7 linked regions of the Homo sapiens genome follow. The protein of the gene in region 3 purifies or fractionates together with the protein of the main gene of each other region. This does not show direct contact. Each region holds a gene or a part of one and is shown on either strand. Other genes may lie near its edges. The genes, in order: POLR3E, PPP1CB, URI1, UTP4, POLR3B, MYH9 and POLR2B.

The links.
Region 1: the proteins of URI1 (region 3) and POLR3E purify together in Homo sapiens (affinity purification with mass spectrometry; 4 studies listed by BioGRID and IntAct, with this or other methods). This does not show direct contact.
Region 2: the proteins of URI1 (region 3) and PPP1CB purify together in Homo sapiens (affinity purification with mass spectrometry; 3 studies listed by BioGRID and IntAct, with this or other methods). This does not show direct contact.
Region 4: the proteins of URI1 (region 3) and UTP4 purify together in Homo sapiens (co-immunoprecipitation; one large-scale study listed by IntAct). This does not show direct contact.
Region 5: the proteins of URI1 (region 3) and POLR3B purify together in Homo sapiens (affinity purification with mass spectrometry; 4 studies listed by BioGRID and IntAct, with this or other methods). This does not show direct contact.
Region 6: the proteins of URI1 (region 3) and MYH9 purify together in Homo sapiens (co-immunoprecipitation; one study listed by IntAct). This does not show direct contact.
Region 7: the proteins of URI1 (region 3) and POLR2B purify together in Homo sapiens (affinity purification with mass spectrometry; 3 studies listed by BioGRID and IntAct, with this or other methods). This does not show direct contact.

Annotation. Positions count from the first base shown.
Region 1 is NC_000016.10:22,331,830-22,335,883, forward strand, and holds the end of POLR3E (DNA-directed RNA polymerase III subunit RPC5), read left to right. Parts: intron 1-230; coding exon 231-356; intron 357-1,814; coding exon 1,815-1,871; 3' UTR 1,872-3,267; downstream 3,268-4,054. UniProt on the Homo sapiens protein: DNA-dependent RNA polymerase catalyzes the transcription of DNA into RNA using the four ribonucleoside triphosphates as substrates.
Region 2 is NC_000002.12:28,785,894-28,789,947, forward strand, and holds part of PPP1CB (serine/threonine-protein phosphatase PP1-beta catalytic subunit), read left to right. Parts: intron 1-2,764; coding exon 2,765-2,916; intron 2,917-4,054. UniProt on the Homo sapiens protein: Protein phosphatase that associates with over 200 regulatory proteins to form highly specific holoenzymes which dephosphorylate hundreds of biological targets.
Region 3 is NC_000019.10:29,980,132-29,984,185, reverse strand, and holds part of URI1 (unconventional prefoldin RPB5 interactor 1), read right to left. Parts: intron 4,028-4,054; exon of another isoform or gene 3,936-4,027; intron 1-3,935. UniProt on the Homo sapiens protein: Involved in gene transcription regulation. Acts as a transcriptional repressor in concert with the corepressor UXT to regulate androgen receptor (AR) transcription.
Region 4 is NC_000016.10:69,152,837-69,156,890, forward strand, and holds part of UTP4 (U3 small nucleolar RNA-associated protein 4 homolog), read left to right. Parts: intron 1-747; coding exon 748-844; intron 845-1,556; coding exon 1,557-1,621; intron 1,622-3,034; coding exon 3,035-3,157; intron 3,158-4,054. UniProt on the Homo sapiens protein: Ribosome biogenesis factor. Involved in nucleolar processing of pre-18S ribosomal RNA. Part of the small subunit (SSU) processome, first precursor of the small eukaryotic ribosomal subunit.
Region 5 is NC_000012.12:106,454,813-106,458,866, forward strand, and holds part of POLR3B (DNA-directed RNA polymerase III subunit RPC2), read left to right. Parts: intron 1-2,325; coding exon 2,326-2,484; intron 2,485-4,054. UniProt on the Homo sapiens protein: Catalytic core component of RNA polymerase III (Pol III), a DNA-dependent RNA polymerase which synthesizes small non-coding RNAs using the four ribonucleoside triphosphates as substrates.
Region 6 is NC_000022.11:36,290,103-36,294,156, forward strand, and holds part of MYH9 (myosin-9), read right to left. Parts: coding exon 3,990-4,054; intron 3,762-3,989; coding exon 3,657-3,761; intron 3,380-3,656; coding exon 3,227-3,379; intron 2,133-3,226; coding exon 1,884-2,132; intron 1-1,883. UniProt on the Homo sapiens protein: Cellular myosin that appears to play a role in cytokinesis, cell shape, and specialized functions such as secretion and capping. Required for cortical actin clearance prior to oocyte exocytosis. Promotes cell motility in conjunction with S100A4.
Region 7 is NC_000004.12:57,027,168-57,031,221, reverse strand, and holds the end of POLR2B (DNA-directed RNA polymerase II subunit RPB2), read right to left. Parts: intron 1,019-4,054; coding exon 823-1,018; intron 450-822; exon of another isoform or gene 324-449; coding exon 234-323; 3' UTR 64-233; downstream 1-63. UniProt on the Homo sapiens protein: Catalytic core component of RNA polymerase II (Pol II), a DNA-dependent RNA polymerase which synthesizes mRNA precursors and many functional non-coding RNAs using the four ribonucleoside triphosphates as substrates.

The sequences.
Region 1 (4,054 bases), on a different chromosome or scaffold from region 3:
CAAGTTTCCAGACATAGCATTAATGCCTTTACTTTTGTGTTTTTATTTCTGTACACTGTCTTGCTGGGTCTCTAGAGATGACTTGGCTCATCTTTAACCAGAGGTGCTGCGTGAGGGTTTTTATCAGAGACTGCAACACAAAGTCAGGTGCATGGCTTGGGTGTCTTGTTTGGGGATGTTTCTCTTTTTAGATCACTGTTTCCCATCATAACGTGTTTTTGCTACTAAAGCATCGACAGGTTTTGCTTGAAATTTTTTCCAAAAATTACCGGGTACGCCGAAACATGATCCAGTCTCGGTTGACTCAAGAGTGTGGAGAAGATCTCAGTAAACAGGAGGTGGATAAAGTACTAAAGGTACATCCATTTTGTGCATAACAAACAATATCAAAGGCTCTGGAAGGGGCTGACAGTGTGTAGAAGGGACTCTAGTGTCTTTGTGTATATGAAATCAGGCTTCCTTGGGACCACTCCCCAGTCAGTCTTGTCTTGAGCAACTGTTAATGATTGATTGATTGGCATTGGTTGGGGAAGGGGGTATGTGCCAGAGGACTGACCCCTTCAAACAATATAGTCACAGTGGTGTCCAAGGGAAAGAATACAGCCATGGATGCTTTGTTTCTCTTTCTGGTTGGGCCAGGCCAGTAATGCCCCTTTCATCCCTCTTCTCTGCTTGTCACTAGAGACAGAAACTAAAAACCATGGCTTCAGGCTGCTAAGAGCCTAAAACAATAGAACAACAAAAAAATATGGTAGGTTGGATGAGCTTGGCAGTGGGTAGGCGTCTTCTAAAATGATAGGGCCTAGTTGAGAATCCTCACTCTACTCTCCCTTGAATTTTGAACTATCTTCTGATTGTTGCCATAGCCACACACATGACTTTCAGTAGAATCCATTCTTAAATTTAGTTTAAAAAGGAATATGATCTGTTTACTATATGAAAGCACCTAATGTACAACCTATAATGCTTTTCTGAAGTGACTGTAGTACAAATACCAACCATATTTGCAGCAACACTGAGAGACAGAAAACTGATGACAATGTCTTGTTTTGATTAAACATCCAGAGCCATATAAGTAATACTGTTTTTTAAGCACCCTTGTTCTGGGCATGTCAGTATCTGTATTTCGTAGACCCCCTTTTTTTTTTTTTTTTTTTTTTTTGAGATGGAGTTTTGCTCTTGTTGCCCAGGCTAGAGTGCAGTAGCACAATCTCGGCTCACCGCAACCTCTACCTCCCAGTTTCAAGCAATTCTCCTGCCTCAGCCTCCTAAGTAGCTGGGATTACAGGTGTGAGCCACCATGCCTGGCCCACCCTCACTTTTAAAATGCCCCTGAGGAATGGCCAGGCGCGGTGGCTCACACCTGTAATCCCAGCGCTTTGGGAGGCTGAGGTGGGTGGGTCACTTGAGGTCAGGAGTTTGAGACCAGCCTGACCAACATGGAGAAACCCCATCTCTACTAAAAATACAAAATTAGCCAGGCGTAGTGGTACATGCCTGTAATCCCAGCTACTTGGGAGGCTGAGGCAGGAGAATCGCTTGAACCTGGGAGGCAGAGGCTGCAGTGAGCCAAGATCATGCCGTTGCACTCCAGCCTGGGTAACAAGAGCAAAACTCTGTTTCAAAAAAAAAAAAAAACACTACCCCTGAGGAAAGGGTGGCTGGTAGTAGCCATGGTGGTATGGTTAGGCAGTTTTTGATTTCCCATTTGTATTCTATTCACTAATCATAAATCGAGTGTTGACATTGTGGACAGAATGTAATTAGCTCCTTTTCCTGCAAAAATCTGTGCTTACCCTGTTTCTCTCTCATAGGACTGCTGTGTAAGCTATGGTGGCATGTGGTACCTTAAAGGGACAGTACAGTCTTGACAATAGTAGCAAACTACTAACCCAGCAAATCTAAGCCCAAGGAAGAAGGGCGGAACCAGAAGTAGGGCCTCGACTTGCTTCAGACGACACAGAGCAAGAGGAACTGACCATCTCATGACCTGTGGCATTGCACGGTGCAGTGGACAGAAGGGATTATCCTCAGCCAGTCGCAGGGTCAGCTTAAGTTAGTTAGATCACTCCCAGAAGAGACCAGCTGGGACCTTCTTTGCAGTACAATTTGAAATTCCTGATGTATTTTGCTTATTATTTGGTTTCATTCTCATAATAAAGAGAGTGTATACTGACATGGGCAGGATGATAAAAATCATGGTTTAATATTTTCTTTTGTAAACTTAATGCCAACAAGGTCTAAGTTATGTTTACAACATGAAGAAAACCTCAAAGTTCTTAATTTTTAAAATGCCTAGAAGACAATATTTAGTCTTGGATTATCTATCTGCTAAGACCTCCACCAATTTCATTAAACCAAATTGAATTATTCTATTCTTGGGATTCTGTGGCCACTTCACCTTTGACAACAACCTACTTTATGTAGCAGTCTCAACTGTTTACATGAACCATAGCAAAAAAATCAGAATCAAATCCATCTCCTTTTAATGTTTGCAGAAAGATGCAAACAAAACCAGGTAAGTATGGAACAATGTGTAAGTGAGGTTATCACACTTTGATGTAAAAATTTCTATTTTGTGTATTTTTAAAATAAATGCAAACACTAAACTAGCATCATGGTGCTATCTTCAAATGGTTACAGGAAGGCGATCTTGTTGGGCTCAGCGTTACGTGTATCTAGAGGGAACGGAGCTAATGGAGGAAGACAGAGCAGCACTGTCCACTAGAAAGAGGCGAGTCACGTACATAATTTTGAAAGTTTCTAGCAACCACATTAGTTTAAAAAGGTCATGTTAGCATATTATTTAGCTCAAAATATCTAAAACATCAACATAAGGTAAAAGTCTTCAAAATCTGGCATTTTACACTTTCCTCAACACTCAGTTTGGACTAGCCACATCATAAGTGCTCCGATGCCACATGGGGCTATTTGCGACAGTATTGGATAGCACAGCCCTAGAAACTGATGGAAAAAATAAGAGTAAGCTAGGTTGGATGACATGTGAATTTTGGTATCTAGATAAGGCTTTCGCCATCTTTTTTGTACAACACAGTCACTAATTGTCTGAAGGTTTAAATGACGGTCTATGCTATTTCCCCACTCCCCCCAAAATAAAACATCTAATATTTTAGCTATAGAATCACTAAGGCATTGATCAAGGATGTACTTTGCCAAATAAGTATTTGGTAACATCACTTAACAAGTTGATCGTGTATTGATTCTGTTAACATATGTGAACCTGAAAAGTAAAGTTACCAAAAGCGATTTGGAATATGTCTCAGCTTTTCCATCCTACTTCCTTCTCACTTTGAAAGGGGAAATGCTCATGTGGGACGGCACAGAATGTTAGTCCCATCACCTTGCAGAACTTAATTGGCTCAGTGGAGAAGTCAGAGCCTTAAATACTTTACATTGATAAAAAGAACTGGTTAAAACACCAAACTCAAATAGCAAGAAAAAGAAACAAGGAATATAGGAGGGAACTATTGTTTTAAAAAAAATTGAGGGAACTTGGGATGTCAGAATAGGACTTTCCAGCACTCATCCCCCTGCAGAAACATGAATTTAAACAACTGTCCACACACAAAAATACCTTCACAAGAGTTAAGGAACCTCTAGAGATTACAGCACCTTGGTGTACCACAGAAATAAGATGTACTAAAGAGGATAGGAGGGACAATTTTACATTACCTAGCTTACCCCCTCCCCAGCCCCAGGCAGCACAGGGTGGAGAGAGAGAGAGAGAGAGAGAGAGAGAGACCCTCTACTTGGAGGAAGGAGAACATTGGACCCCAAAATCATGCCAGCCCCAGACTCCAGGCCTGCGCCAGGAACACAGGCTCTAAGCATACCCACTGCCAGGCCTGCACCCATGAGCTCACACTCTAGCAGGCACCCCCTCCCCACCCTGGTCCAGCCCCATCTGAGTAAACCCCAGCACTGGGCTGGCCCTCACAGACTAGGCTCCAATATCCCCTGCAGCCCCAGGTTCTAGGCCAGCCCCCATGGCCCCAGGATCCAAGCGAGCCCTCAGAGACTAATCTCCAGGCCA
Region 2 (4,054 bases), on a different chromosome or scaffold from region 3:
GTTCAGATGTAAACTGATCTAGTGTGATATGCTAGGCTTCTGTTTTTAGCATGTTTTATTTATTTTAGCGTATTTTAATGAGAAGTTTTCAAGATGCTGAAAACAGTTATTTTGATCTTTGATAGTGTCTGCAACATTCAGAAATTTAATTTATAAGTTAATACATTATTTGAAGCAGCCTAGTTGATTGTGATGCTAGCTCATTAAACAATAAATCTTGACTCTGAAATTCTTTTTGAGACAGAATTTCACTCTTGTCGCCCAGGCTGGAGTGCAATGGCCTGATCTCGGCTCACTGCAACCTCCACCTCCCAGGTTCAAGCAGTTCTCTTGCTTCAGCCTCCCAAGTAGCTAGAATAACAGGTTCCTGCCACTGTGCCCAGCTAATTTTTGTATGTTTAATAGAGACAGGGTTTCACCATGTTGGCCAGGCTGGTCTTGAACTCCTGACCTCTGGTGATCCGCCCACCTCGGCCTCCCAAAGTGCTGGGATTACAGGCGTGAGCCACCATACCTGGCCTGAAATTCTTATCTAGACCCTGTTAAGGTTAAAGAATTCCAGATTGTTGTTGCTACCATTATTTGATTTTTTTAATGCATCCAGAGTGTCATGTTTCCTAAACCTCAAACTCTATTCTAATTTTATACAGTTTTATTGTCTCACTGAAATTATAGATTCTTGAGATCGAGACCATCCTGGCTAACACGGTGAAACCCCATCTCTACTAAAAATTCGCTGGGTGTGGCAGTGGGCGCCTGTAGTCCCAGCTACTCGGGAGGCTGAGGCAGGAGAATGGCATGAACCCGGGAGGTGGAGCTTGCAGTGAGCCGAGATCGTGCCACTGCACTCCAGCCTGGGTAACAGAGCGAGACTCCGTCTCAAAAAAAAAAAAAAAAAAAAAGAAATTATAGATTCTTAATACCTTAGCTTTCTACTGGAAAGAGGCTGGAAAGTATGAAAGCATTATTAAGCACTGGGTGGGTGTATATTTTCGAAGAGTCAGCTTCAACCAGAAAGGGCTTAAGAATTGAGACTGACTATTCCAGTGGATTTTGTGTGCTAGTGAATTTCTTAAAACAACATACAGGGAGCTTGGGATATATCAATGATAGAGATTGAATACATTGCCACTAATTCTACAAATGGTTTTATAATGCCTCTATCAAGATATGATGTACTGTAACTGAAAATGAAGATGCCCTTTCCTCCTAAACCATACTATGATGTTTATGGATTATTTAAAATTCTTAAAACTGACTTAACTCTTTAAAAATTATCTTCTTGGCTGGGCGCGGTGGCTCACACTTGTAATCCCAGCACTCTGGGAGGCCGAAGCGGGCGGATCACGAGGTTAGGAGATCGAGACCATCCTGGCTAACACAGTGAAACCCCATCTCTACTAAAAATACAAAAAATTAGCCGGGCGTGGTAGCGGGCACCTGTAGTCCCAGCTACTCGGGAGGCTGAGGCAGGAGAATGGCGTGAACCCGGGAGGCAGAGTTTGCAGTGAGCAGAGATTGCACCACTGCATCCCAGCCTGGGCAACAGAGCGAGACTCCGTCTCAAAAAAATATATATGTATCTTCTCTTAGCCACTGCAATTCTTAGAAAATCACCATCACCATCTCAACATCCACCCTTCTTTTAATATCACTACAGTTGGACTTTTACCCACTCCGTTACCCTCAATCACCAAGAAACTTGCATTGAGGTCTGATGATTTAATTGTAAGTGGCACATTTTTGGTCTTCGTCCTACTGCCCTTGTTCATGGCACATTTCCTACTTTAGGACGATTGTTTCCCCTTTCGGGATACGTTTACTATACTAAGCCCTTTGTCTTGATCATTCCTTCTCAATACCTAATGTTCATTCTCCCTCATCTACCTGCCTATTAAATGTTTGAATTCCTCAGAATTCATTTGCTGGTCTTCTCACTTTGTATTCCTAAGGTGGTCTGAGTCCCTCTTAAGATTTCCACTACCATTAATATGATGACAATACTCAAGTAAATATTTTTAACCCTGACCTCTTTTCCAGGGCTCCAAACATTACCAAAGTCAAGGATCTGATCTGATTTTGTTCTTCCACATTTAAAAAAAAATCCTCAGGGTCTCAGTAGAAAATGTTTTTTTTTCGCTCAAGTGATCTGTAGATCAAATACAATTCCAGTGAAATCACAATTGAGTTTTTTATGGAATTAGGCAATTGTTTTTAATGTTTATGTGGAAGAACAAAAGATCAAAAAGTAACCAAGACAATCCTGAAAAAAAAATGGAGGATACTAGCCCTACCAAATATAAAGACTTATTAAAAAGCTCTAGTCTGTTATTGGCTCAGGGATAAGTAAAATAGACTAACAGAATAGACTGTGGTGCTCAGAAACAGTGGAACCGTAAGGAAAGGATGAACTGTTGAGGAAATACCACTGGGTTGTTTGGTTATTCATATGGAGAAACTACCCAAAAGATGAACAGCCTTTTCCATGTATTGTTGTGCTGTAAGTGCCATGCACATATTTCCTATATGTGGAAAGGGTTGGAAAGTACTACCTTAAGAGGCCATGGAAGATTATATTTGTATGGTTTGTATGGTTGCTTTAACAAAAGTATAAGTTACATAGGCTGGAATACTTAGGCAAGTGATGGTCATTGTTTAGTAAAAGGTAAGAGGGCAAGAAAGGAACTGAAATTTGATGTAGATGTGCTATATTCTATAAATCTGTAAATTTTGTTCTTAATTGCTGTATTTCTGTCCTTTAAAGGTTTGCTCTGTGATTTGCTATGGTCTGATCCAGATAAGGATGTGCAAGGCTGGGGAGAAAATGATCGTGGTGTTTCCTTTACTTTTGGAGCTGATGTAGTCAGTAAATTTCTGAATCGTCATGATTTAGATTTGATTTGTCGAGCTCATCAGGTATGAAATATAAAACTCTTAAGCTTTTTCTTTTTTCTTTCTTTTTTTTGGGGGCAGACGGAGGGGCAGACAGATTCTTGTTCTGTCACCCAGGCTGGAGTGCAATGGCGCAATCTCTGCTCACTGCAACCTGTGCCTCCCGGGTTCAGGCAGTTCTTGTGCCTCAGCCTCCCAAGTAGCTGGGACGATAGCCGTGTGCCACCACACCTGGACTCTTAAACATTTATTATTTGTTAACTTCACATAAGCCCTCTCATTTTGTTTTGAGGAAACATATCCAAGAAAGCTAAATGAGTTGTACAAGGAAAGCAGTAGGAGAGGTGGCAGAGCCAGTTCCTGGATCTCACACTTAACAATCTAGTGATTTGTTAACCTTTTATCACCCTAAAAGAGGAAATGTTTAGAAATATTTTGGGGCTGGGCATGGTGGCTCACATCTATAATCCCAGCACTTTGGCAAGCTGAGATGGGTGGATTGCTTAAGTACAGGAGTTTGAGACCAGCCTGGGCAACAAAATGAGATTCCATCTCTACAAAAAAAATCAAAAATTTAGCTGGGTGTGGTGGTGCGTGCCTGTGGTCCCAGCTACGTGGGAGGCTGAGGTGGGAGGATCGCTTGAGCCTAGGAGATCAAGGCTGCAGTGAGCCATGTTTATGTCACTGCTCTCCAGCCCTTGTGAAAGAGCTAGACCCAGTCTCAAAAAAAAGAATGTATTTTTGTAGTATACAGCAAACCTAACAAAATTTTCAGTGCTTCTTTGAAGCTTTGTAGATATGATTTAGATTTTTTTTTTTTTTTTTTTTTTTGAGATGGAGTCTCACTCTGTCACCCAGGCTGGAGTGCAGTGGCACAATCTCTGCTCACTGTAACCTCCGCCTCCCAGGCTCAAGCGATTCTTCTGCCTCAGCCTCCGGAGCAGCTGGGATTACAGGCACGCACCACCACGCCTGGCTCATTTTTGTATTTTTAGTAGAGACAGGGTTTCACCATGTTGGCCAGGCTGCCCTTGAACTCCTGAGCTCAAGTGATCTGCGCCTCAGCCTCCCAAAGTGCTGAGATGACAGGCGTGAGCGTGAACCACTGTGCCCAGCCTCATTTTTATATAATCTTTGTGCATAATGGCGATTTTGATAAGAG
Region 3 (4,054 bases):
CCAAAGTGCTGGGATTACAGGCATGAGCCACCACACCCGGCCGAAAGAAGAGATTTAATAAAGCTTTTGAGTGAATAGATACTGGCTGTGAAGTTGAAATCATGAACATGAAATTTGATCAGATGCTTTAGTCCTCATCAGAAAACCTTAGGCTGAAAAATGCATCATCAGCTCTTCAATTATTCATAATAATGTGATTAAGGTAAGAGAGAATCAACTGGGGGTAGAAGAAATTAAGTAGAGATAATACAAAAGGCGTTTCAATTTGGCCTAGGAGTCTGTTTCTTGTTACATCAAACAGAGCTACCAAATAAGTAATTTCAAACAACCAAAAGGTATATGTAACTCTGTAGGGGCAGAGATGATCGTATTTCCATGCTATGGGCCTTACTCAGCTCTTAACACCTGCTGGAAATGAACAGCCCTTCTTTTTGAGTAATACCAGGCAGCAGCCTATGCCAAGATGCCCGTCAAACTTTCTCTGGAGACTGGGTTTCCAAAGGGTTCCCTGCTAAGATACAGGCTGCAAGCAAAACTACAGCACTGAATTTTTTTTAAGCAGAAGGATGTTGTCAGTTTTTAAAAATAACAGAAACAAAAATTCACCAACTCAGCAAGTAATTTAAAAGAACATGTAGACATTGTCAAATTGAAATCAGGATAAACTGCAATGTAGGTAACAACTCTCCAGATAATATAAATGACAAACATCACAGAATTGGTTTCAGCTTACTGCTTAGTTCCCTGAAGCAACAGTAGCATAATTAATAAAAAAAAATTAGCTCAGTCTTAAGATCTTAAGGAATTTCACATATATATTATTTTACATAACCTATAATAAATGTCACTTATCAGTATTTTTCTCTTACAGAAGACAAAGTAGAAGGAAGATGGAAAAACCACATAGCAAGAAGCCAGATCTCCTCTATCAAGATGAGGTAAGCAATGAGTTTAACCTAGCTAGGTCTTCTGACCTGCATTCCTTCATGAAAGCTTTCTCATTTTCTAGTGTGCAACTGCTTTATAACTTTCCCCAAAAAAAATCCTTTTCTATAAATAAATACGAAACATGTTTTATTCTTTTGTTTAAGGCAAAAATCCTCCTCCTGGAAAATTTTTATATGGATAAAATGGCAAAAAAACTTCATGCACAAGGCTATGTACCAGAAAGAACATGGCTTTGAAGTCAGACCAGAGAGTGAATCCCAAGCTCTACATGCAATTTACACAAATTCACCTTAGTCTTAGTAACTTCAATGGCAAAATTGGACTAATACTTATCTCACAGGTTCAACAGAATTAAATATAAAAGGTCTAACACACTGCCCAGCATGGAGCAACTACTATTTTGGTTCCAAAACTCAAAACTCATTTTTTTCATGAAGCATCAAAAAACATCAATTCCAAAACTTTCAAGAAAGACTATTACCTACAAGATTTCACTAACCAATTTGATACAAATAGTATAACTTGCTGAAAGACAGTACAGCTGAATGTAACCATTCAGGGGCTTTGGAAACAGGACTGGTGTGAGCAATCAATGGGAGAATGTCTCCATAGGACTGACTGGTACAGTGCCTAGACAGTCAACACTCACTATTAATAACATAACACTAACAGCTTATTTATGTTTCAGATAAGTAATTCTGCAAATGCTCAAGGACTAAATACACCAGCCTAGATATCTAAATATTTCTATGAATATTAAGAAGCTAGTATTAAAGTCACCATTCAATAAGTCTTATTTTGGTAACAATGCTTAGGAGAAAAAAAAACAACTTCCTCACAAAAAACATCTATTTTGTACATTAAAAGAACAGTACGTTCAAAAACAGGCAATACCAGAGATCAATGTCAATATTTCAAGTCAAATATAATCAGTTTTCAACTTATTAATAATTCTCTCTGGAATAAAAATGCGGACATACTGGAGAGCAGTTTAAGATTAGAGTTGCTATTTATAAATTTTGAATTATTTTCTAAAAATACAAAAGTAGAAGATCACTTAAAATGCAGCCCATGTAGAAATCCTTTATGAAGGGAGGCCAGGAGGAGTCAAGCAATGTCTCTGGAAGAAACTACAGCTTGAGGAACCCTCTCTCTCTAAAGGCTACATTCGTGGAAATGTTCAGGGCTTAGTCAAACAGTGATCTCCAAATAGTATCTCTATTATTTCAGGCTTAAATAATCCTGTTAAAGATCACAAAGCCTATGCAACAGAAAATGCAAAAGTTATGCTAAGAACTAATGCATTACTGAGGTTAAGTCTGGGGTCTTTATTTATAACAAAATTTGAACAGATTTTTTTTTCTATTTTAATAATTAGAAACGTAATTAATTTTTGGACACAGGAGTCATTACAGTAATCAAAAATGGTAATTGCTTAAAATAATTTTTCTTCAAATGGAAAACAAAACCCAGATAGAGTTAAGAAACACCTCTCCAGCCTACTTACTTAGAATAGCTAGACCTGCTTCTTTGGCTTCAACATAATGGATCCTTATAGATCAGGTTCCGCCTTCAACTCTTAATTTTAAATTTTTTTCCAATATCCTCATGCAACATTCCTTATACAAAACAAGAACTAAAAGCATAGGTATAAGGCATGTAAGAAACTTTAACCACTTCCTTCTGAATCTTGCTAATCATGTGCAATATGCCTTTTGAGAGTACCTTTTGTTTTAAGGAAATTAAAAAAAAAAAATAGGCAGCAGCGATGAAGACCATTAACACAACCACAAGTTAGCCCTTACCCTTAAAGGATTAAGATCAAGACAGAACCTATGGGAAACAGCTCATTTGCATAAAATTGTAGAAAGTAAGAGAGAAATCAAGTTAAATGAGGGATATGCTCAAGTATTTAGGGGTGAAATACACAGATGTCCACAACTTAATTTGAAATTCATCAGAAAAAAATGGATTAACGGATTAGGGTACAGACAGATAGGTGATCAAGATTCACTCTTCCATATGTTTGAAATTTGTCATAATAGAATATTTTTAAAGGGACGAGGAAATATGAAAGGGATCAACATTTTTAATCCTCTTAAAAGTGACTGACAAAAATAAAAATCTCTATTAAAAAAAAAAAGTCTACATCCTTTGAGGCCAGTGATAAAGACTCCAACCTTTAAATAATAAAAAAGGGAGATAAAATTTAAATCAGGTTGAAACAATAAGACTTTGCTAATTTTACTTTAAAGTAAGAAGTTAAAATAGACAGCAAATACTAACATTGAACTTTTTTTTTTTTTTTTTTTTTTGGAGATGGAGTCTCACTCTTTCACCCAGCCTGGAGTGCCGTGGCGTGATCTCGGCTCACTGCAACCTCCACCTCCCAGGTTCAAGCGATTCTCCTGCCTCAGCCTCCTGAGTAGCTGAGATTATAGGCACGCGCCACCGCACCCGGCTAATTTTTGTATTTTTAGTAGAGACGGGGTTTCACCATGTTGGTCAGGCTGGTCTCGAACCCTGACCTTGTGATCTACCCGCTTCGGCCTCCCAGAGTGCTGGGATTACAGGTGTGAGCCACCATGCCTGGCCCAGTTTTTTTTTTTTTTTTTTTTTTTTTTTAAGAAAAAAAATCTTCTATCACTCTCTTTTCCTCTACCTAACATCCTAAACAGACAAGCAGAAAATACTGTGAGATGCCTAACGGGGAAAGAGGAAAAAAATTTCTATATAAGTGTTAACATCTGAGTTAACCTGGGACAGAGTTAAATTTTTATTTTTTAATTTAAGAAACGATAAAAACGGAAGATTCTGGAATATATACAATATATAACCTTCTTTAGAAATAATTTTTAGTCCATCATACCCACCCTACAACTTCCCATTAAGCATCCAAAAAAGACTTGTTTCAATTGAATCCACCATTTACTGAGCAGCTCCTCTACAACAAGCCTATGGCATATGCTGCAGGGATCATCACTCACACATAGCATGCCTTTCTGATTGTTTGTTGATTGTTTTGCAATGCATCTTTGTCAAAGATCCACTAGCTTGAAGGATGCCTGGCTTTTCACCTCTAAAATCAAGAAAATAGAGGAATATT
Region 4 (4,054 bases), on a different chromosome or scaffold from region 3:
CAGTCTCAAACTCCTGGTCTCAAGCAATCCTCGCACCTCAGCCTCTCGATTGCTGGCATTACAGGCATGAGCCACTGCTCCAGGCCCATTGATCTGTTTTAAAGCACCTTTGTTCATCACTCCATGCTTCAAAGCCTCTGGTTATCCCTGTTGGCTTCAGCATAAAGACAGTTTCCTTAGTGTGTCTTATAGAACCTGTCTCCATCCAGGCCTGGCCCTTCAGCTTCTTTTTGCACCTCTCGTGCTTGTAGCACCCCCACCCAGGCTAGCCATTCTCAAGGTCTTTTTGTTCCCTCAAATACTCTTACCTTTGAGCTATGTCACATGCCATCACCCTCCTCAGAATGTTCTGCCCTGCCTCCTTCGCCTGACTGGTCTTTCCCAGTGAACCTCATCTGGGCTTCTGTATTTACCACCACACAGCTAGGTTAGATGTCCTGTCTCCTTATTTTTCAGTACATACTGTGTTTAGCCGTGTTAAAATTCTTGGCACACTGAAGTCTAATTGCTGATTTAATTCTGTGTCACCCCTTTAGAAGCATGTTGAGAGCAGTAGCTATGTTTTAATTCATCATCGTCTTCATAGATCTCAGGGCAGTGCCTGGCATATGGGAGTACTTAGGAAATATTTATCAAGGAAATGGATTTCAGCAGTAAAAAATGTGCTAAGGTGGTGCTACTGTATCTGGTACTAAGGCAGTAGATGACCCTGACTTATTTTTTTAACTTCTTGATTCTTGGATATAGCGATGTCTCATCTCCTGTTCTAAAAAGAGGCAGCTTCTCCTCTTCCAGTTTGCTCATCACTTAGAACTTTGGCGACTGGGATCCACAGTTGCAACAGGTAAGATGGGAGCACGTTTTTTTCAATAAGAAAACTGGAGAGAGAAGCCAGAAATCAGAATTGCGGTTGGAATTCTGCTTATAGAAAAACTGAAGTAGACTTTTGTGTCCATTTTAACTAATGGTTTTCCCACCCATTAGATAAAGCAAATAAGCTGTTTAGAGTATTAGAATCTTTAGCAGGATATTGGATCATCTCTTAAAAGTTTATGGCTCTAGGTGGTGCGCTGCAGGGTGTAGTCAAGGTAAGGGTTGAAGAATCGTAGTTTGCGCTAGCTTAACTGAGGTGAAAACAGGCTGTTGAAAAACAACAAGATTTAATGATGGGTAATGATAATCCTGTAGAAAAAGAAGATCACATGGATCTTATTGGAGTGACAGCCTAGTGGCCTTTTTGACTTATTAAGGAAATGTTTGAGTCCTCTCATTTGCAGTGGATTAAAATCGAGGCCACACAAACTCCACCTGTGTCCCTGGCTATGGACTAGAGCTTCAGGGAATTAGTGATGTATCAGAGGATAGAAGCAAAAGAAGTACTCACTGCTTTCTCTTCATATACCCCTCAAAAATTGTGAGCTTACTCAGTGAGCTTGTATTTTTCTGATTTCCCACTGATAGAGATTCCATTTTTCCAAGGAGTAACTTTTTAGAAGAAAAATGTACAAATACTCTTTCTTTCATAAGAAAAATCTCAGGGAAGTTTCTTGTTTCAGGCAAGAATGGGGATACTCTTCCACTCTCTAAAAATGCAGATCATTTACTGCACCTAAAGACAAAGGTAAGGAAGTTTGTTTAGGCTCTGAATTCTAGAGCCTGAATTCTAGGCTCATAATTCCCATTCTGAATTTTGAGGTTACTTAGTTTGCATCATAAATTGTATAAATTCTAAAACTATTTGAATGAAGGACTGTGTCACCAGGACTGGGTTTCCTGTGATTATAAGTAGGACGTTGAGGATTTATTAGATGGATGTATACAGGAAATAGGTTTCTCTTCTTTTGATATTATTATGAAAATAATGTGCTTTTATTTATTTATTTATTTATTTATTTATTTATTTATTTTTGAGACGGAGTTTCACTCTTGTTGCCCAAGCTGGAGTGCAATGGCACCACCTCAGCTCACCGAAACCTCCGCCTCCTGGGTTCAAGCGATTCTCCTGCTTTAGCCCCCCAAGTAGCTGGGATTACATGCATGCGCCACCACGCCCGGCTAATTTTTTGTATTTTTAGTAGAGATGGGGTTGGTCAGGCTGGTCTTGAACTCCCGACCTCAGGTGATCCGCCCGCCTTGGCCTCCCAAAGTGCTGGGATTATAGGCGTGAGCCACCGCGCCCAGCCATGTGCATATTTTTAAAAACTCAAATAGTACAAAAGGGTATACAATGAAAAAAAAATCATTTTGTGAGTTTTTAAAAACTACATACATGTTACATTCAACTTTTCTTTATTCTCCAGATTCTTTTTTGTTTGGTTAGTTGGTTGGTTTTTTTGTTTGTTTGCTTACTTTTTTGAGGCAGGGTCTCATTGTGTTATCCAGGCTGGAGAGCAGTGGCACGGTCACGGCTCACTGCAGCCTCAACCTCCCAGGCTCAGGTGATCCTACCACTTCACCCTCCCAGGTAGCTGGGACTACAGGTGTGCACCACCATGCCCGGCTAATTTTTTGTAGAGTCAGGGTTTCACCATGTTGTCCAGACAGGTCTTGAACTCCTGGGCTCAAGCAATCCTCCACCTCAGCCTCCCAAAGTGCTGGGATTACAGGCATGACCCACTGTACCTGGCCTTCAAATGTTCTTCATTTGCTATTTCTTAGAAGTCTTTAAAGCAGAACGCCGTACACAAAACAGAAAATAAGTACTTCAAACCACCTATCCTCCAGAGCTTTCCTTCAGTAAATGCCTCCCTGCTCAGGTTTCTGAAGTTGGGGTCTAGTATGAGGCTATCTATGAAGTATTCAAAGGGCCAAAATAAGAATAGACCTCCATTCTTGGATTTGGAAATCAAAGCCATGCCTTTTAGGTGCTCTGCCTCTGAAATAATCATATTAATGCAGACCACACGAGGATCGAGATTATGTGTAGATATCTGTGGGTATGTCCAGAGTGGCAAGAGCTTGAGGCGTCATGTCCCAGTGCACCTTGTTATGTGAAGTTTAATTGCACATTCATCTTGATTCCTGATATTGCCAGGGTCCTGAGAACATTATCTGTAGCTGTATCTCCCCATGTGGAAGTTGGATAGCCTATTCTACAGTTTCTCGGTTTTTTCTCTATCGGCTGAATTATGAACATGACAACATAAGCCTCAAAAGGGTAAGTGATAGTCCAATATCTGGTCACATAAGAGGAAACTTCCTAAATATGTCATTTTTGTGTGAAGTGGAAATCAACTGGATGTGAATCCTTGCTCAGTTAAAAACTATTTGGAGATTTGGAGAAGGCTGTTATGAAACAGTGTTTTATTTCTTTCTTTCTTTTTTTTTTTTTTTTTGAGACGGAGTTTTGCTCTTGTCACCCAGGCTGTAGTGCAATGGCACAGTCTTGGCCCACTGCAACCTCCGCCTCTTGGGTTCAAGCGATTCCTGTGCTTCAGTCTCCCGAGTACCTGGGATTACAAGCACCCACCACCACACCTGGCTGATTTTTGTATTTTTAGTAGAGATGGAGTTTCACCACCCGTTGGCCATGCTGGTCCTGAACTCCTGACCTCAAGTGATTCACCCGCCTCAGCCTCCCAAAGTGCTGGGTGCTGGCATTACAGGCGTGAGCCACCGCACCCAGCCTTTTTTTTTTTTTTGACCGAGTTTCACTCTTGTCACCCAGGCTGGAGTGCAATGGCACCACCTCAGCTCACCGCAATCTCTGCCTCTCGGGTTCAAGCCATTCTCCTGCCTCAGCCTCCCGAGTAGCTGGGATTACAGGTGCCCACCACCAGGCCTGGCTACTTTTTGTATTTTTAGTAGAGATGGGGTTTCACCACGTTGGCCAGGCTGTCCTGAACTCCTGACCTCAGGTGATCCACCCCCTCAGCCTCCCAAAGTGCTGGGATCACAGGCATGAGACACTGCGCCCGGCCCACACCCAGCCTTTATTTCCATTTTGAAATTTTGAGGTATGTTCTTAGAGGGATAGGGTAATGCCCTACAGGCAATAAAATTAAAGCTTTTCTGTTTAGTGGTTTCACGTGCGACTTAGTTATTTCCTTGATAG
Region 5 (4,054 bases), on a different chromosome or scaffold from region 3:
TTTGAATTTTATGATATAGAAACAGGAGGTGGTTGGGTTTTGATGTTGGCTTTCTTGTCATTTTTAATGACTAGTATATTGAAATAATTTGTTAAACATACTACTACAGAATATTTTTCTCCTTTATTATTTTATTGGTTACGTGAGACAATCCTTCAAAAAGAAAAAAAATGTAAGAATGTGTTTGTTTTCCAGCAGGAATTACAGTATATGAAATATGTGTTTTCACTGTGTCTAGTGATACATATTATTAACAACAAACCTGTTTGAGAGGGCAGTAGCAATATTTGGATGTAAAAGGCTGTTTCTTATTTGTGTAACCTCATAATTTGGTAACTTCTTTGGCCAAGTGACGAAAGTTAAAAATACACGGCCACAAACTCTGGCGTGGAGTTTTTCTGCTTTTCTTTCTGTTTTTGACAATACTTTCACAAGTCACCACCTCGTGGTTTGTTAGACATCACCTGATCTGAAGTCTGACTTCTCTATTCATAATCTCGATTTCTCTTTTTCCTTCCTGGCGTACCCACTATGCCTTCCCCTTCCCTCTTTGTAGTTGCTAGGCAGCCATAATAGTACTCCTAGACATGTGTCTTTGGCATTAATGTTGGCCACACTTAATTTATGCCTCTTTTTTTCCTCCAAATGACAACAGCCATGCTTTAAAACTAGATGTTTTCCTTTCTGATTAACTGGTAACGTTTATGTGGAAATCTGAAGACTTTGTGATGTCTGTCAGAAACTCTGCAACCCAATTCAGTGATCTGAGTTTACTATCCCCTAGCTTTTAAGCTATCACCTGTAAATAAAATGTCTGTTTACACTTTGAAGAAAACACTTCTTGATTTCATGCAGTTAAGATTCACATTGCACTCCAGCATGTTGCAGTTAATGGCTACTGTATGAAATTTCAAGATCATGTAATGTTTCCAAACCAGCTGGCATTCTGAGCCGAGTTTATTATGGCCATACACAATTTCCTAGGAGCCATGATGACTACGGCCTTGCTTAAAGACACAAATGTCTTCATCTGACGTCCAATTTTAGAAATTCGTTACTTCATCTCACAGTCACCTTCATATTTAAAAAATTACATTACAGCCCTGAGATTTTATTTATAAATCCACTTTTACCTGATTGATTTCTAAAGTCACATTCTTAGATTTCTGTTTTTGGTGGAAAATTGTTAAGTGAAGGATTTTACTGCCATGCATTTATTTCATCAGTAATAAGCGGCATTTAATCCTGAGACATTTCTTATTTAAGTGAACTCTGGCATGGCTCAGTATATCCTGAGGAGATTAGTAAGAGAATCCAGTTTAAAATAACTGCTTGGCCAAAGGGAAAAAAGAAAGAAATGCAGCCACAGAATCAGGAAATTATAGTGTTGAAGGAATGACAGCTGTTTTGGGTAACTCTACAACTCATGGATTTTTTCTTTTAGGGATTCAGTGGTTGAGTTTTTTTGCCCCACCCAAAGGTTTTTCTTCTGTCCTTTTTGCTTATTTTTCTTCCTTTTCTTTTCTGATCCATTGCTAGACAGCTTATTTTTCTTGATGTTTAGATTGTTAGTTGATTTCACAGCCTTTCCCTCATCCACTAGATAAATGCAATCTAAAAATGTAATTAAACTCCAATCTTTAGGGCAGAGGAGAACTATTTTTCCCATTGAAATAATTTGATTATTTCTTTTTTCATTCTGTCTCTTCTCTGGAGAAAAATTATTGTTTTTACTTGTTGGCTTAGAACTTGCTCTAAATGCCAAATTTTAAAAAGGAAAACTTTCCAGGGAAGTTTAGCAGAAGTTATGCACCAAAAGGATGTGTATCCTGGCTCAGGAGTCAGTGGACTTGTGCTGTTCAACACAATTCTCAACTCTGCTGCCAACTTTTTGGATGACCTTGGCCACTTAATTTCTCTAGACCTCACTCCTAGTGCCTGTAAAACAGATAGGTTAAGCAGGTGATTTCTAAGGGCCTTTCCAATTCTAATATTCTATGGCTCTGTCCTCTGAAAGAATCACAGCGCCAGTCTTAGATTTCTCTCACCGTTCTCCAGTATGACAAGGTGTATTCCATGCAGAAAATGGTTGTAGAGATTCCAGTGTTTACACAGACAGTAGGTAGGGGACAAGTCCTGTGCTGCTTCTTCAGATTATCAGATTTTTATTTGGTTTGTACTGGTCCCAGATTATTATCAAATACAGAGAAGTTTTGGGATTTGGGGGAGGGTGAGGTGGAGTGGATTGTTGAGTAGCACAAATCCATATTTCCTTATAGCTTTGGGTTACTGGTGGTTCTAATGCCCATCTTGGTTTCATTTTAGGCTTTGGGCGTTGCCTTGTATATAAAAATGCTAAATGTACGTTGAAACGATACACCAATCAGACTTTTGATAAAGTGATGGGGCCCATGTTGGATGCTGCTACAAGGAAACCTATCTGGCGACATGAAATCTTAGATGCAGATGGTATTTGTTCTCCAGGTAAAAGCCTTTTAAAAGAAAAAATTTTAATACTTTTTGACATCATATGTTATTCAATAATATTTCTGAATATTTGGCAAAAAGGGCAGAAAAAAGTAACAACCTATAAAACCACCATCCAAACTCAACCAATGAGGTCATTTTTGATGAATTTCCTTCCAGTCTGTTTTTCTATACACTATGTTTTTACCTATCAGTAATCTATGCTAACTATAATTTTCTAGTTATAATTTTGAATAATAGAAAAGCCACTTTAAGGAAATATTTAGAGTAGTTTATGTCCCTGCATCTGCACTGGTATTTCTTCATTTACACATTTAGCTTACAGACTACTTTAGAATTTTATCCCCCTGCAAAGGTATGACTCCATTATAATTACAAACTTGTAATGCATTTTGTTGATGAAACAAATAGCCCTTGCCCTTATGGGTCTCACAGGCTAGTGCAGGAGACTGACATTGATCAGAGGATCATGCATAAATCCAGGTTAAGGAATCATATAGGTAACTATGAGGCCATTTTATAGCAAGAGAATTTGACCTTGTTGGGAAGATCAGCATGGCTTTCCCGAGGAAGTGAGCTGGAATCTGAAGGATAGGGAAGAGTTAACTAAAGAAGAGGATCAGGGAGCATGTTCTAAGTAATGAGAAAAGCTTGTGCAAGGGTCCCAGAGCTTGGTAGTTGAAAGGTCTGAAAGAAGACCAGCGTGGCTAACAAGAAGAGAGTGCAGGGAAGCATGGTGCACATGAGTTGGTGGGTGACGCAAGGGGTAGGGGCCAGAGTAAGCAAGTCCTTGCAACCATGTTAGTATTGTCTTTATTTTATTTTATTAATTTTATTTTTGAGACAGGGTCTCAGTCTGTCACTGAGGCTGGAGTGCAGTGGCACAATCTCAGCTCACTGCAACCTCTGCCTCCCAGACTCAAGTGATTCTCCCACTTCAACCTCCTGTATAGCTGGGACCCATAGGCACGTGCCACCATGCCTGGATAGTTTTTTGTATTTTTTGTAGAGATGAGGTCTTACCATCTTGTCCAGGCTTGTCTTGAACTCCTGGGCTCAAGTTCTCCACCCACCTCGGCTTCCCAAAGTGCTTGAGCCACCATGCCGAGCCCATGATACTATTTTCATTATGATCCTAAAAGCAATGATATATTCAGATATGTGTTTTGAATGATCATTCTGACTACAGTGTAGAAAAAGGATTAGAAGGGCACTAAAATAGAAGGTAGACCTGGTACCAGGAGCTGTGGTGAAGGTGGAGAGAACCCAGTTTGTGAGGAGGGAAATCCACATGACTTTGTCATGGTTGGCCTGTGGGCGGTGAATGCTTTATCAAGCTGTGGTTCCAAAGAGACACAGAGTACGCGACTTCTCCTCCCTCCCTCTGCCTTTGTTTCTTGGAGAATTTTTCTCACCCTAACACTGGTCAGTATGGCTTGGAAAATACGCGCTGTGACAGTACTACAGGTAGTTGGTCTTTGAACTTACCAGGAAGAGATACAAAGCAAAAATGGGAATAACAGCATAACCAAAGAAATATTTTGATTTCCTTGTTGCCCAAGTTAAA
Region 6 (4,054 bases), on a different chromosome or scaffold from region 3:
GTGATATGAATGCATAAATAAATCGTTTAAAAGACAGTCAAACCGCAGGAGTTTGAGACCAGCCTGGGCGATATGGTGAGATCCCTGTCACTATGAAAAACATCTAAAAATTAGCTGGGTGTGGTGGTGGTGCACGCCTGTGGTCCCAGCCACTCAGGAAGCTGATGTGGGAGGATCACTTGAGCTGTGGTTGCACCACGGCACCCCAGCCTGGGCAACAGACAGAGACAGTCTCCAAAAAAAAAAAAAAAAAAAACCCAAACTATTTTAAAAAAACCCAAACTATAATTAAATAATTATAATAATGTAATGATATAATGATAATTAAAGTGATTTTAACTCAGTGCTCAATGGAGCCCAGGCTGGAGTGCAGTGGCGTGATCTCGGCTTGCTACAGCCTCCACCTCCCAGCCGCCTGCCTTGGCCTCCCAAAATGCCAAGATTGCAGCCTCTTCCCGGCCGCCACCCCATCTGGGAAGTGAGGAGCGTCTCTGCCTGGCCGCCCATCGTCTGGGATGTGAGGAGCCCCTCTGCCTGGCTGCCCAGTCTGGAAGGTGAGGGGTGTCTCTGCCCGGCCGCCATCCCATCTAGGAGGTGAGGAGCGCCTCTTCCCGGCCGCCATCACATCTAGGAAGTGAGGAGCGTCTCTGCCCGGCCGCCCATCGTCTGAGATGTGGGGAGCGCCTCTGCCCCGCCGCCCCGTCTGGGATGTGAGGAGTGCCTCTGCCCAGTGGCGACCCCGTCTGGGAGGTGAGGAGCATCTCTGCCCGGCCGCCCCGTCTGAGAAGTGAGGAGACCCTCTGCCTGGCAACCGCCCCGTCTGAGAGGTGAGGAGCCCCTCCGCCCTGCAGCCGCCCCGTCTGAGAGGTGAGGAGCCCCTCCGCCCGGCGGCCACCCCGTCTGGGAAGTGAGGAGCGTCTCCGCCCGGCAGCCACCCCATCCGGGAGGGAGGTGGGGGGGTCAGCCCCCCGCCAGGCCAGCCGCCCCGTCCGGGAGGTGAGGGGCGCCTCTGCCCGGCCGCCCCTACTGGTTAGTGAGGAGCCCCTCTGCCAGGCCACCACCCCGTCTGGGAGGTGTACCCAACAGCTCATTGATAGCGGGCCATGATGACAATGGCGGTTTTGTGGAATAGAAAGGGGGGAAAGGTGGGGAAAAGATTGAGAAATCGGATGGTTGCCGTGTCTGTGTAGAAAGAAGTATACATGGGAGACTTTTCATTTTGTTGTGTACAAGAAAAATTCTTCTGCCTTGGGATCTTGTTGATCTGTGACCTTACCCCCAACCCTGTGCTCTCTGAAACATGTGCTGTGTCCACTCAGGGTTAAATGGATTAAGGGCGGTGCAAGATGTGCTTTGTTAAACAGATGCTTGAAGGCAGCATGCTCTTAAGAGTCATCACCACTCCCTAATCTCAAGTACCCAGGGACACAAACACTGCGGAAGGCCAAAGGGTCCTCTGCCTAGGAAAACCGGAGACCTTTGTTCACTTGTTTATCTGCTGACCTTCCCTCCACTATTGTCCTATGACCCTGCCAAATCCCCCTCTGCGAGAAACACCCAAGAATGATCAATAAAAAAATTAAAAAAAAAAAAAAAAAAAAAAAGACAGTCAAACCAGTTCATTAGAGAAAATCTGAAAAATGTAAAAAATCAGAAAGGAAAAGTCACTCCTCAACCCATCGCATGAAGACGCCCTCTTCCGCTGGCCTTCTCCCTGGGACCCTCAACAAGCCAGAGCCTGAGGGTCCTCTAAGCACTGGCCCCGCACGGCCCCTCCCCGGCGAGACCCTGAGGGAGCCCAGGCTTTCTCTGATGGGCCCTTTGCTTTGGACTCAGTGCTTGAAGGAGAGGAAATGCAAAGGATGGGGCCAACGGCCACACACCTGGTCAAACTTCTTCTGCTTCTTCTCCAGGTTGCACGCGCTCTGGCGCTGGTGGTCCAGGTCCACCAGCAGGTCGTCCAGCTCCTGCTGCAGCCGCGTCTTGGTCTTCTCCAGCTTGTCGTAGGCGGCCACCTTCTCCTCGTGCCGCTGGCTCAGGCCCTCCAGGTCCTTCTGGAGCTTCCTCTTCACCTCCTCAGCAGTTTCCAGGCACCCCACACTGTCCTCCATCTTCTTTTTCATGTCGGCCACCTGGGCAGGAGCAAGGAGTAAGCAGATGCCCGAGATGGCACCTGCTCAGGTGGCACACCCGTCCCTGGGGCAGCTGGGAGCCTGCCTGCCACACCGTGGAAGGGGCACCAGGGATCTGCCCAGTTATGAAACCGCCTCCCCCAGTCACTTCCCTCTCCACAGGGGCGAGACAAATGGAGCTTCTGCAAAGGGGCATCTGTCTACTGTGTGAAGCCCGGGGGAGGCTGACCCCCAGGCCCGCTGTGGGGGCTCCCAGCCCACATCCACACCAAGCCTCTTGCTCTACGGAGACTGCTCCCAGAGAGCAGGGCCAGTGCCCTGTAGGGTGTCCACGGGGTCCCCATCACCCAGCCCCATCCTTGCACTTGGAGATAAACCCACAATCAGGCACGCTCGCGGGCTACTCCTACCCTGACTGTGGAATGGACTCCCAGCCCATCCCGAGGTGGTTCAGGCCTTCTGGCCTGGCACATGGAGGCCCAAGATAGGATCTAGAGCAGGGGCTCTGAAACCATATTAGGCTACGGACCCCTTCGCAGTCTAGAGAGGCCAAGGGACTCCTTCTCATGACAATGTTGTAACAGGCATGAAATAAACATGGGATCAGCAGGGCAACCAGTACAGAAAAATGCAGTTGTCACACATTCTAAAAAACCATGGCTCAGGAAGCCACGTGCTGCTAGATAGCACATCAGATAACAAACAGCGCAGGCCTGGGACCCATGAGGCCAAGGAGCTCGGCCACAACCCTGACAGGGTAACTGGCCATTTCTACAGATGATGACGGCACAGGGACTGCCACCACCATGGCTTGCTGCCTACATCCATAATGGAAGCAATGCTGAATTTCAGCTAAAGACTGGTGAAAATAAAGGTGTAAAATAGTGAAAATAGTGGTGTCCCCCATCTAAGTCCACAGATCCCTGGATTCCTTTCCTTGAGAGCACTGATGTGGGAGAGCACGGTTGGCTTCCCAGGGGGAGAGCAGCAATGGGCCGGCCCAGCGGGCAGGGCTGTCCTGCAGTGCCCAGGCCAGTGCCCGGCCAGCAGCTCCCCAGCCTGCAGAGTCCGGCCGGTCCCCCAGGCCTCCAAACCTGGGCATGGAGGGTGGCGATCTGCTTCTCCAGGTTGTGCTTGGCCTCCTCCTCCTCCTCCAGCTGCTCCCGGAAGGAATTCTTCTCGTCCTCCACCTGCTTGAGCTTGGTGCTCAGGCTCAGCTTCTGCCGGTTCTCCTCCTGCAGCAGCTCCTACTCGCGGGTTGAGAGGGGTGCGGGTGCTTAGGAGGGTGGTGTCCAAAACCCAGGAACCCCACACCCTTGAGGAGAGGGAGGAGCTGGTCCTGCTGATTTAGGGGATGGCCACGTAAAGACCTGGAGGGAGCTGGGAGGACGCAGAGACCCACCCACAGGATGAAGCAGATGAAGGAGAGGATGGGCAATCCGATGGGCTCTGAAGCTAATGTTGCGTGGACACAGAGGCCTTTCTGGAGGGGTCCACCTTCTGGGAACCTGGCGCCACCCCTACCTGAGTGTCCTGCAGCTGGGACTCCAGCGCGGAGAAGTCCTTGGTGAGCTTGCTGGACTTGCTGTCGGACTGGCTGAGAAGCCCGGTCACGTTGTCCAGCTCCACCTGCACCGGGCGGGGAGACACAAAGGACCATGGACCCACCCCCACTGCTCCTGCCCCACCTCATCTCCTTTAGGTAAAGCTGGACCTGAGTCACAAGCTGAACCATGAGGGTCTGAGGAGCCAGTTTGAGAAGAGAGAGAGACAGAGAGCACACATGCACCTGGGGACCTGGGCCACAACTGCTGCTAGGGCCCACTGCCCGCGCCAGGGTCCTGGCGGAGGCCTCACCTGCAGCTTGGTGACCTTGTCGGCCAGCTCTGTGCGCACGCGCTCTCCCTCGTTGAACTTGACCT
Region 7 (4,054 bases), on a different chromosome or scaffold from region 3:
TAACACTTTAGTTATATTCACTGGTTTTACACAGAGAAATACAAAATAAAGATCACACATCAAGACTATCTACAAAAATTTATTATATATTTACAGAAGAAAAGCATGCATATCATTAAACAAATAAAATACTTTTTATCACAACACAGTACATATTTGTCATTTTTAAAAAGCCACACAATAGAAACAAGACACCAAGATATTTAATTATCTTGTTGACTCCTGTAAAATAGCTAAACACTCATCATTCGCGGTGCAATACTCATAGACATAAGTTCCTGAAACAATAGTTTGCATGCGTAAGGCATTCGCACCAAAGAAATCTGAAAAGAAAAAACAAATGGTAATTAGCAGAATTGTATTGAAGTGACCCCACTTCTCTACCCCAGAAAAAGACAAAGATCTGGTACTGTAGATAATGAATAAATGAGTGGAGCTGAGAACACACATTCTGCTACCTCAGCTTATGGTGGTTCTTTCTCCTAGTAGGCTTTGGTATTTTACCCATTCTGCCAGACATAATTTATATTCACCCACCTCAACTAAAAGGTTTTCAAAAACTCATTGTTTAAAATCCCTTGTACAAAGTCTTATTATTTCCAAAAGATGAATAGCTTAGAGAAATTACCACACTAAAACCTAAACTGGTTTTTAGAAAAATCAAATTATCTTTTCCTTATTTAGAACTCGGAATCTCACAGAAGCATGCTATCAAAATTGTGAAAATGCCAATCTGTTCTGCCACACTAATTCTGCCTGGATAATCAGACCAACACAGTTTCCTCTAAACAAATATCAACTGCCAGTAAAGTCTATACACACCTGGGTTTTATTGCGGCAGCCCCTGCATTCATATGTATGGGTCCTGGTGTTGGCAATCGCCATTATTCCACAAAGATTGCAAACATGAACCTGATATGGATCTGATGCCTCAAACAATCTTTCCCTTAAAAACTGGGCTGCTCCATGGGCAATCTGACAATCTCGTTCCATTTCTCCAAAACGCAGGCCACCATCACTGTTAAGAGAAAAAAATTATTACTTTGTACTTATTTTTTATTATAAACACCGCCTTGAATAATGGCAAAGGTGGAGAATAATATTTGCAAAGACGGATAACTAGGCTCTAATTTTTATACCCTAGCATTCTCTCTATTGGTGGGGAGAGGAGAAGTCTACCAACTATTTGACGTGCATTAGAAAGTCCCCAAATGGGCTAAGCAAAGTGGCTCACCCCTGTAATCCCAGCACTTTGGGAAGTGGACTGGGTGGATCTCTTGAGCTCAGGAGCCTGGGCAACATGGCGAGACCCCATCTCTATTTTTTAACAAATAAAAATAAAAACAGAAGGTCCCCAAATGGAGTGGATACATTAGATTCTTAAGTAGAGCATTTAATTTTCCTCATAAGACACAATAAAGCATAGAGTGGAGGTTCATCATGCTATCATTTAACTTTCTAGAATTCAACTCTATACTAAAAAAATGAATAATGAAAAAGACAATCTAAATAAGGCAGCTTGTCAATGGAATGACTGTCCCAGGCAATCAACCTTGAAATCATAAATACATGTTGGCTGAAGTAATGGAAAGAACAGGTAAATGATAATAGGTTTCCCCAACATAAGAAGTGAAATAAATGCATTATTCAGATGGCCAGGCAAATAGATGGTGATGGCTTCCTTAACATACTTAATATCCAAAATATACAAAATAAAACCAATGGGTTTATAATGATATTCCACCAAAACAAAAAAATCATTGGTCGACTTTGGACCACTGATCTGGATCATTAGACAACCAGCTCACTATTTTGAAAACTGGTAAATAAAAAAAGAGAATCAAGCATTTATTCCTGCCCTTACTATAAGAACTACATCACTAGGTAACCAAACAGTTGAGGAAACAAAGTTTTAGAAGTAGTCTGGCTAAAAACTGAAGAAGGACTGAGAAAAAATAGAATGGTATCAGTTGGAAATCGCCATTTAATTAAGGTCTTTAGTAATAGCTGCTAAAATCATAAAAAGAAAGGCAACCAGATACTGGAAGTATAGAATACCACCTATAAAGTATTACTGCCAAAAAACTCAAACGCTAAATCTCAAGCCTCAAGATCTATTTACAAAAAACAAAAAACAAACAAACAAACAAAAAACAGCAATGCACAGCATTTGGGATGCAAGCAGCAAAATTCAGTCTCAAGCCCTGGACAAACAGTCCAGGTTGTTCAACAAACAAATTACAAGGGGAAAAAAAAGGTTGGAAGGCAACCAATAAATTCAAAAAAGGACTTATGAGACACTATCAATCAATTGCAAAGCATGGACCTTATCTGTATACTGATTAAAACCAACAAACCTTTAAAAAACTTATGTGATAATCAGGGAAATGTAAATCTGGATATTTAATACTAAGGAGGTACTGTGGTTAGGTTTAGTGTCCTAATCTTTTAGAGCAGAGGTTCTCAGAGTGTGGTTCATGGACCGCCTGAGAGTCAAAGCTATTTTTAATAGTAATACTAACAACATATATTTGCTTCTTTCACTGTGTTTACATTTGCACTGATGGTGGAAACATGAATAAAACTGCTGACACCTTAGCAGAACTCAGGGTAGCAGAACCAAACATTACTAGCAGTCATATTCTCCATTCAAGTGAAGGGGAGAAAAGCCAGTTTTACTTAAAAATGTCCTTAATGAAGCAGTGAAAATAAATAGTTTTATTAAACCTTAACCCTTGAGTATACATCTCTTTCATATCCTGTGACTTTTAAAAAAATGAAAGTCCTCAACCAGGCACGATGACTCACACCTATAATCCCAGCACTTTGGGAGGCCAAGGTGAGAGGCTGGATTGAGCCCAGGAGTTCAAGACCAGCCAGAGCAACACAGTAAGACCCAGTCTCTATATAAAAAATAAAGTAAAATAAAATGGAACACTTCATAAGCACTTCTACTGCATAGTGAAGATGACTGTCTTGAACAAAAGCACTTGCATGATTCTGAACTAGTCCCTTTTAACATGGAGTATCTTTTTTACTCAAATAGCCAGCTGACACCAACTATGTTAACTCATCAACATGTTAACACCCATGATGTTAATTCAGACTTAGAATTAAGTTGACGATGTTGTAGATATTTGGCAGACAAAGAAATGAACAAAAAGAAATGAAAGCAAACGAAAAAAGTAAGTCTTTGAGGAAAATAATTTTAAGTATTTGTTGAAAATGATGAAAATTGTGAGCTTCAAGCAAAAATCAGAATTTTAGGAAACTTCTATGCACCACTATGGGCTTGATAGCTTCCTGATATATTTAAAGGCTTTTCTAATGACATCAGTAGTCATATTAACAAATGCAATTTTTTTATTATAATGAAGTGTGTTAACATTTGAAAATCTACGTAACTCAGCAAACCAATATTTTCCAAATGACCAATTAGGATGCTACAAAATATGCATGTGTAAAAGATACATCTGAAGTACAAGACAAACCAATGAACTTCAAACATAAATACAGAAGGTTCATTCATATGGTTTCAGTTTCTACATCAAAACCAACCTTTGAGAAACTACAACTTACCGTTTTGGTGTAGTATCAAAAAAATATCCACAGGCCAGGCGCCTTGGCTCATGCCTGTAATCCCAGCACTTTGGGAGGCCAAGGCAGACAGGTGGATCACTTAAGCTCAGGAGTTTGAGACCAGCTGGGAAACATGGCAAAACCCTGTCTCTACTAAAAAATATAAAAAATTAGCTGGGCTTGGTGGTGCATGCCTGTAGTCCCAGCTACTTGAGGCTGAGATGGGAGGATCACCTGAGCCTGGAAAGTAGAGGCTGCAGTGAGCTGTGATTGTGCCACCACACTCCAGCCTAGGCAACAGGGATGAAACTGTCTCAAAAAAAGGGAAGGGGTGGGCTGGGCGTGGTGGCTCTTGCCTGTAATCCCAGCAATTTGGAAGGCCAAGGCAGGCGGATCACTTGAGGCCAACCATTTGAGACCAGCCTGGGCAAAATGGTGAAACCCTGGCTCTACAAAAAATACAAAAATTAGCTGG